Linked DNA regions of Homo sapiens: all the other regions are linked to region 1. Evidence: fine-mapped expression QTL. A gene starts in region 1. Each other region holds a variant in brackets. All regions are shown on one strand. Distances are from middle to middle. Region 1 holds the start of NUS1 (NUS1 dehydrodolichyl diphosphate synthase subunit). Region 2 overlaps NUS1 (NUS1 dehydrodolichyl diphosphate synthase subunit). Region 3 has its middle 54 kb from the start of NUS1.

Region 1 (2,762 bases):
AACATGAGATTGATGTCTTTAATCTTGTCAGAACGGATAGACATTGGGGCAAAGAAATGAGTACGGTAGAGAAATGTGGCAACATAGTCGGCATGGGGGGTGGGGTGGGGTCTGCAGAATACGTGGCCAAATCTCAATGGGACACTGGTGTCTAGGGAGCTTCCTTAACAAGCATCATGTAGCTGCATAAACTACAGCAATGGGCAGTGAGGAAGAAGACTGTAGGCTTCCCTGATCATGGCCTTTCGCCTCTCCTTCTTTGTCCATCATCAGAGGAGCTACCGCAGAGGAGACCTGGAGAGAAAGAAGTGTGTGAAGGGTGTGCCTGGTGCCCAGCCCTCAGTTCTTCAGGCTGCACTGCCAAAGGGAGGAAAATTGCACTGCGAAAGGGAGATGGACATGAGATTCAACTTTTAAAGTAAAGTTAAATGAGTCTTAGAAACCAAAATGAGACTAGTTGAAAAAGTGACAATGTTAGAAAAATTAAGTCACATAGCCAAGACGTGAACAGATGTTTCCCAGGGGGAAAAAGAGGCTTTAGCGAACAAAGAATAGGTAGGTATTACAAAAACGCAACTGTTTACACACACACACGTGTGTAAATATGTGTGTATACGTGTGTATGTGTACAGTTGCATTTTTGTAATACCTCCCTAATCTTTATATATATACTTATATAAATATAAATGCAAATAATATAAATATTATTGTTGCACACACACATATATATGATGATAGAGGATGTAGCATGTAGGATAAACCTTGAGAAATGGGTTGGAATGTCGGCAATACCAAGTCGGGAATCAGGAATTCAGGAGAAGAGCTTGAACAAAAAGGGCAAAGACAGTACAGACTTACCGCGGGGAAGTACAAAACCATTCTAGAGGACCACGTCGAAGTCCACATGGACAGAAACATTAGGGTGTTAAAGGGGATGATAAGGCTTGGATGGGCAGTTTGCTTCAAATAGTGGCGGTCATTGAAGTCAGGCACAATTTCTATTTTTTTTCCCCACTGTAAACCTAACCCACGGCGGTTGGTCAAAGTCTTGCCGAATAAAAAAAAAAAAAAAAAAAAAGAATTAAGTGACTGGACTGCCAAGCTGTAGAGCCTCTATTAAGCAATGTACAGCCAGGAAAGGATACCTTAGATGAGAATGACATGGGTAGAGGGGTGTTTCAGGAACATGGCTAAAGAGCCTCGCTCCCAGCCTCAGCCGGGAGGCTGAATAAAGGACAGTAGCAGGATCACTCCAGCCTTTGAGGACACTTTTGGAAACCCTGGTGGATTCCCAGCATCAACACTTACTGAGGGCTGCTTTCCATCCCTAGGTTCTTTCCGGCATTTGTAATTTCCAATCCACTTAGGACACTTCTACTCCTCAGAAACCGTTTCTGTCGGGGCCGTGAGAGGAGACAGTATAAGACTTCCTGGACCCAAGGGACGCCGGGTCCCCTGGAAGCGCCCATCGCATTGAAGACCACGTGTGCCTTGCTGGGGTCCCATTCAGACAAGTCCCGGGTCGTTCGCTCATCGCCCTCCACGCGACCAGGGGGCGCCCGCGGTATCGGCCCGGCTAGTTCGCAGGCGTGCGCCTTCCCTCACTGCGCCGGAACGGGCCACGTTCTCGGACCCAGAAGCCGCGTCAGAATTCCACGCTGGCCAATCGGAACTGTCCATGTACTACTGGGGGCGGGGCTGCCAAGGGAGGAGGAAGATGGCGGCGGGGGCGAGGTGAGGTGTTGGCAGTGGAAAGGGGTTCGGGCTCGGGGGGCGGGGGGACGCGGAGCGATGGCCCGCGCCGGCCGCAGGGGCGGATAAAAAGCCGTCGCGCTGCGGGAGTGGGCGGGAGGGAGAGGGGGTGTCTGAGGGCCACAAGAGTATGACGGGGCTGTACGAGCTGGTGTGGCGGGTGCTGCACGCGCTGCTCTGTCTGCACCGCACGCTCACCTCCTGGCTCCGCGTTCGGTTCGGCACCTGGAACTGGATCTGGCGGCGCTGCTGCCGCGCCGCCTCTGCCGCGGTCCTAGCGCCGCTCGGCTTCACGCTCCGCAAGCCCCCGGCAGTCGGCAGGAACCGCCGTCACCACCGGCACCCGCGCGGGGGGTCGTGCCTGGCAGCCGCACACCACCGGATGCGCTGGCGCGCGGACGGTCGTTCCTTGGAGAAGCTGCCTGTGCATATGGGCCTGGTGATCACCGAGGTGGAGCAGGAACCCAGCTTCTCGGACATCGCGAGCCTCGTGGTGTGGTGTATGGCCGTGGGCATCTCCTACATTAGCGTCTACGACCACCAAGGTGAGGCCCGGTGCGGTGGTGGGGGGTGGCCGAGGCGTCTTGGACCGCTAGACCGCTGGTCTGGCGGGTGGTGCCCATGGCACGAGTTGCCGCGGCCTCTCTGCAAATCACAGCGCTAGCGCTTTCGAGGAAGGGAGATCAGCTTTATTGAACACCTACTAATTCTCTGGATTTGACTCAGTAGCTTTTTAACATTTTAAAAATATCCCTTGGCCGGGCGCGGTGGCTCATGCCTGTAATCCCAGCACTTTGGGAGGCCGAGGCGGACGGATCACCTGAGGTCGGGAGTTCGAGACCAGCCTGACTAACATGGAGAAACCCCGTTTCTACTAAAAATACAAGTTTAGTCGGGCGTGGTGGCATATGCCTGTAATCCCAGCTACTAGGGAGGCTGAGGCAGGAGAATCGCTGGAACCCGGGAGGCGGAGGTTGTGGTGAGCCGAGATCGCGCCACTGCACTCCAGC
Region 2 (2,762 bases), 27 kb after region 1:
ATGTACATATGGACCACAGAGTAGTATTCAGCCATAAAAAGAACAAGATCCTGTCATTTGCAGCAACACGGATGAAACTGGAGGCCATTATGTTAAATGAAATAAGCCTGTCACAGAAAGACAAACATCACATGTTCTCACCTGTGGGAGCTAAAAATTAAAACAATTGAACTCATGGAGATAGAGAGTAGAGGATGGTTGCTAGAGGCTGGGAAAGATAATGGGGGAGTGAGCCAGCAGGGAAGTGAGGCTGGCTACTGTGTACAAAAAAAAAAATTGAATAAGATTTTTTTTTTTTTCAAAGTTGTTGTGTCTATTCAGGGTCCTTTGCATTTTTCTACAAATTTTGGGATTGGCTTTCTAATTTAAAAAAACTCTGCTGGGGTTTTGATATGGATTGAATTGAATCTATAGCTCAATTTGGGGAAAGTTGCCTTCTTAACAATATTGAGTCTTCCAGTTCATGATCATAGTATATTTCTCCATTTATTTGGGTTCTAATTTTCTTTTTTTTTTTTTTTTTGAGATGGAGTCTCGCTCTGTCGCCCAGGCTGGAGTGCAGTGGTGTGATCTCAGCTCACTGCAGACTCTGCCTCCCGGGTTTACGCCATTCTCCTGCCTCAGCCTCCCGAGTAGCTGGGACTACAGGCGCCCGCCACCGCGCCTGGCTAATTTTTTGCATTTTTAGTAGAGATGAGGTTTCACTGTGTTAGCCAGGATGGTCCCGATCTCCTGACCTCGTGATCCACCTGCCTCGGCCTCCCAAAGTGCTGGGATTACAGGCGTGAGCCACCACGCCCGGCCGGGTTCTAATTTTCTTAAATAATATTTTGCAGTTTCGGGGTATAGAATTTCTACTTCTTTTGTTAAATTTACTCCTAGGTATTCTTTTTGATGCTGTTGTTAATGGAATTATGTTCTTAATTTTCAGGTTGTTTGTTAATACTTAGAAATACACTTGTTTCTTAATATTGATTTTATATCCTGCAACCTTCCTAAGATACAAGTTCACCTAATCTAGTAGCTCTTTTTGTAGAGACTTAGGATTTTCTAAATACACGATCATGTTGTCTATAAATAAAGATTACTCCTGCTGTCTCTGCTCAGGTTTTTTTTTATTTA[A/AT]TTTTTTAGTCTGGCTTATGTCTACATAGCTTAGTGGTAAGCCAATGATTTCCACATTGGTTATGCTTAGATACCTTAAATTTGTAAGGCTTCCATGATTTCTGGTATTGGAAACTGAATTTAAAGTTGCCACCAGTTCTCAAGTTTCCTTGGCTTTTGATTTTCACTGGACTTTCTTCCTGCCCTGTCCCCTACCCTGCTTCCCCTCCTAGTATGTATGTTATTTCCCAGTCGGCCATGGATATGTGAGAGTTTATCTGAGCCCTTATTTCCTGGATCTCACTGTTAAATTTCTTGCCATTGTATTAACTGGGGCTACAACCTCAGGCAAGTAAAGCTGTGGGTTTTCCTATTTGTTCTCTTTTGAATTTCCCACCTTTAACTGTCAAACCATGGATTTTCATTGTTCCTTTTCCTTCTTGCCTACACCCTCCAGTTCCAGATTGAGTCCGTATCTTTTGGCAGCAAGTAGCAAATCATCTAATTTTTGCTGTCAGAGCTATACTGGTAAAATGTAAGTTCTCTCCAGTTGATTGGGGTGGGCATTGGGAGCAGTCCCAGGCAAGAAGGCCATAGACCTTTGCCATTCTTACTGAAAGCTCTAGCTTTTTTTTTGTTGTTTTCTTTAAGAATAATTGTCCGCCTTTGGTCAGTATCTAGTGTTCTTGAATGGTTGGTTTTGTCCAATTTAACATGTTTTTTATAGAGAAGATTTGCCACCCTCTTTACATCACTATTGGTTTGGAGTTCCTTCTTGTCATTTTTTATGGAAGATAATTTATTGCTTCTTAGGTAATACAGGAATGTGTGTTCCTCTGCTTGGCCCATTCACTCTACCAGTATGGACTTTTAGAAGGACTTTGTTATGGAAATAATTTTTTCAATAGTACTGCTGGACAGGACTGCCTGATCCAGTTTCCTTATTTGACAAATGAAGGAATTTAGCACTGGAGAGGTTGTATAACAGACAAGTTAGTGGCAGAATTGAGGATGTTAACAACTATTGGAACCTTAGTCTCTTGGATTATAGTATCTTTTTTCTGTACTCTTCAAATTTTATTTTTAAGCTATTGAAATACCCTTGTCCTTTTTTTCCCCAAGTCAGGTCTCATATGGAAACCAGTTCATGAAAGAGATAAAAATTGACCTTGTCCTTGTTGAGGCAGATGCTTGGTCTCCTTTTCCTCTCTGAGGCTGCTCTGGCTCTGGGGACCAAGGAAGACATTTGTGATGTATGGCTAGGAGTTGGTCTTTTTGGGTTCATAGCTGTAAAATGAGGTGCATGAGGGAAGGAAGGAGAATAGATATTTTAAAATTTCCTTTTCGTCTCTGAAGTTATTCAATTCTGTGGCCAGAATCAAGCAGTCACACCTTTAGAACTGTAGTAACTTTCCCAGGATTCCAAGAGAACACCTACATTGAGTCTTAAAAGATACATGTGATTTTGGGGGCACCTATTGGGTATAGTGTGGGAGGTGGGTTACCCTTTCTTATCAGGTAATCAATCAAGTTAAACAGACTTTTGAGAAAACTTCCACATTTGGAATGAGCATAGATATTAAAGTATGTATTACAGAGTTGGGGGTGGGGCATGGAGACATACAGATAAAACTTCTGAAGAAAACAGGTAGTTTAAAGAA
Region 3 (2,762 bases), 54 kb after region 1:
GAACTTTGCATCTCTGGTGACTAACGTATCCATAGGAGGAGTTCGGCAGGATTCATGGTGGCAGGGGCAGCTATTTCTGCTCTTCAGCGCTGCCTTTGTTGGCACATATTCCAAGTTTGGTTTGCCAGCATCCCATCAATAATGTGAGCTCTCAACATCCTTCCGATAAATTCCCTTGTTACTTGAAAGAACCAGTGTTGGTTTCTGTTACTTTCAGTTGAAAGGCTTATAAAAGCTATAATGGTTCTTGGTATCCATCTTAGTTCATGATGGTTTTTTAGCAGTTCAAGGTTTATTAATCCAACAGAATTTCTGACTCAGAGATGGTAAAAGTGAAACATCCTGTATAGCCTTAAACTTATAGGTGTTGATTATCTTTTCAAGCTATACCAGATTGTAAAAAGTAATTGAAACATGTAAGCAGCTTTGTCACAAGCTAGCTAGTGTCTTTGCATCATTATAACACCAAAGGTAACAAATTCTGCTTGAAATTTAAGATAAAATGATATAATATTTTTTGTTGCATGAATAATATGACATATATAGGAAATTATATAATAGATAAACTTATTATTGAAGCTTTACTTCATGCCAGACATTAAGCATTTAGACATTTATTTAATCCTCATAACAATCTTATGAGGAAGGTACCATTAAAATTCCCATTTTGCAGATAAGGAAATGGGGGCATTTGCAAAATCAAAAATAAAAGGCAGCCGATACTTTGTTACTCTGTAGTGCTTTTAACTTCATCATTATTAGTAAGTCAGTCCTGTAAGACTCTGCCTTCTAAAGTGCAGCCAGGTCCAGACAGCTCAGCCACTGCAAGCTTCATGTATCCTTTATCTGCTGCTTAAGTATGGATCTCAAAATAGCACCACATACAGATGGTGCAGCTGGCCTAGCAGATGTAGAGTGAAGCTATCTGCAAAATTTTGCAAATGAATCTGTAGCTTAATATGTTACAGATATATAAAAATAATAAGAGTGCACTATTTTAATGTATAATTTTTTTAAGGAACACCTTCCTCATCTAGAGAATCATTTGGGATTATTTAAGGCAATGTCAATTTTATAGCTTAGCTGGAAACCATAAGGAGAATCTCAATACAGAAGTGTACACCAAAAATGACTTTTAAAGAAGTCAGTATGGGTTAGGTTTCATAATCAAGCTGGCAGAAATAGCTTTTTAGGCATTTCTGCCCTAGTACCATCCTTTGACCTAGTGATATTTTACCTCTTTGCTGCGGCAGGCTAAAGGCATCATACAGGTAGAAAGGATTGTCTGAAGCACAATTCTGTGTTTCTGGGATTCTCCTGTTTCTTCAGTATTATATGTATCTGCCTTGATCTCCTTTGTTCTTTGATTTTCTGTTCATTCTCATATTGCCTCTTACCCCCTTCTCCTGGCCCCAGCTTTCCCTTGGCAGCTTATCCCATTAGGTGTCTTTCAGCTATCTAGTGCTGCATAATGGAGTACCCCAAAGTTTACTGGCTTAAAACAACAACTGTTTTTATTATTTCTCACTATTCTGTGAGTCAGGAATTCAAAGAGGGAAGAGCAGAGATGACTAATGTCTGCCCCGTATCATGTCTATTAGAATGTCCAAAATGGTTTCCTCACTTCCATGTCTGGTACCTGCACTAACTAGTCTCTAATGGTAGGAGCTGGCTTGAGTGATTCTGCTGAGGTCATATATTTAGGGTCTTTGGTCT[T/A]ACTCTTGACTGGGTTCCTCAATTCTTCATGCAATCTAATGACCTCTCCCTCTCCACGTGGTGTCTCCATAGGGCTTCTATATGTGGTGTCAACAATGGGGTAACCAGACTTCTTATGTAGCAGCTCAGGACTTTCAAGAGTACAAAAGCAGAAGCTGCCAGGGCTTCTGCCTTATTCTGTTGGTCAAAAGAGGTCACTGGGCCAGGTGAAATTCAAGGGGAGGAGACTATAAAAGGACAACTTTGAGAGTCACCAAAGAACCAGGGTACCACATTGTGTAATTGCAGCATCACAACCATGTTTGTGTTCAAACATTGTGTGCATGTACATGATGGACATTTGATAAAAGCATTTTCTCCATTCTCCTTGCATTAGGCTAGATCCTTATTTCAGTCACCCATACACAGATGTAAAAACAATTATCTTGCATATCATGGTTATTACTGCTTCTCTGGGTTAGGTCAGATTTGTAATAATTTTGGTCAGGGTTTAACACAGAATTTTGAGAGCAGTGAGTTATGCCTTATCTTCAAAATAAAGGTAAGACCAGAACGAAGTGATAATACATTTCTGAATAAAAGAATTGGGAGAGCCTATGGGTTGATTCTTTTTTTATTTTATTTTATTTTTGAGACGGAGTTTTGCTCTTGTTGCCCAGGCTGGATTGCAATGGTGCGATCTTAGCTCACTGCAACCTCTGCCTCCCGGGTTCAAGCGATTCTCCTGCCTCAGCCTCCCGCGTAGCTGAGATTACAGGGATGTGCCACCATGCCTGGCTAATTTTGTATTTTTAGTAGAGACGGGGTTTCTTTATGTTGGTCAGGCTGGTCTCGAACTCCCGACTTCAGGTGATCTGTCCGCCTTGGCCTCCCGAAGTGCTGGGATTAGAGGCATGAGCCACCACGCCCGGCCGGGTTGATTCTTTTAAAATCAACATTCTTGAGATATAACATGTAATATAATTTAAGGTATAACTAACCTAAATATAATCCATGAATCTTGTGTTTTTTTCTCTGAGTTTTGACAATTTCATATACTTGTGTAA

What was found.
Region 2: its variant is fine-mapped to the expression of NUS1 in whole blood (INTERVAL, PIP 0.90).
Region 3: its variant is fine-mapped to the expression of NUS1 in whole blood (INTERVAL, PIP above 0.99).

Annotation. Positions count from the first base shown.
Region 1 is chr6:117,673,789-117,676,550 of GRCh38, forward strand. NUS1 (NUS1 dehydrodolichyl diphosphate synthase subunit) reads left to right here and starts at 1,681. Exons shown (of 5, transcript NM_138459.5): 1 at 1,681-2,297. The coding sequence starts at 1,883. LOC101927919 (a long non-coding RNA gene) reads right to left here and starts at 1,496. Exons shown (of 3, transcript NR_110854.1): 1 at 1,309-1,496; 2 at 859-1,047; 3 at 1-294.
Region 2 is chr6:117,700,740-117,703,501 of GRCh38, forward strand. The region is part of intron 3 of NUS1 (NUS1 dehydrodolichyl diphosphate synthase subunit); the gene reads left to right. Among named protein-coding and RNA genes, the nearest start is that of NUS1, 27 kb to the left of the region's middle. The variant A/AT (reference allele first, on the strand shown) is at 1,123.
Region 3 is chr6:117,727,985-117,730,746 of GRCh38, forward strand. No RefSeq gene overlaps it. Among named protein-coding and RNA genes, the nearest start is that of NUS1, 54 kb to the left of the region's middle. The variant T/A (reference allele first, on the strand shown) is at 1,717.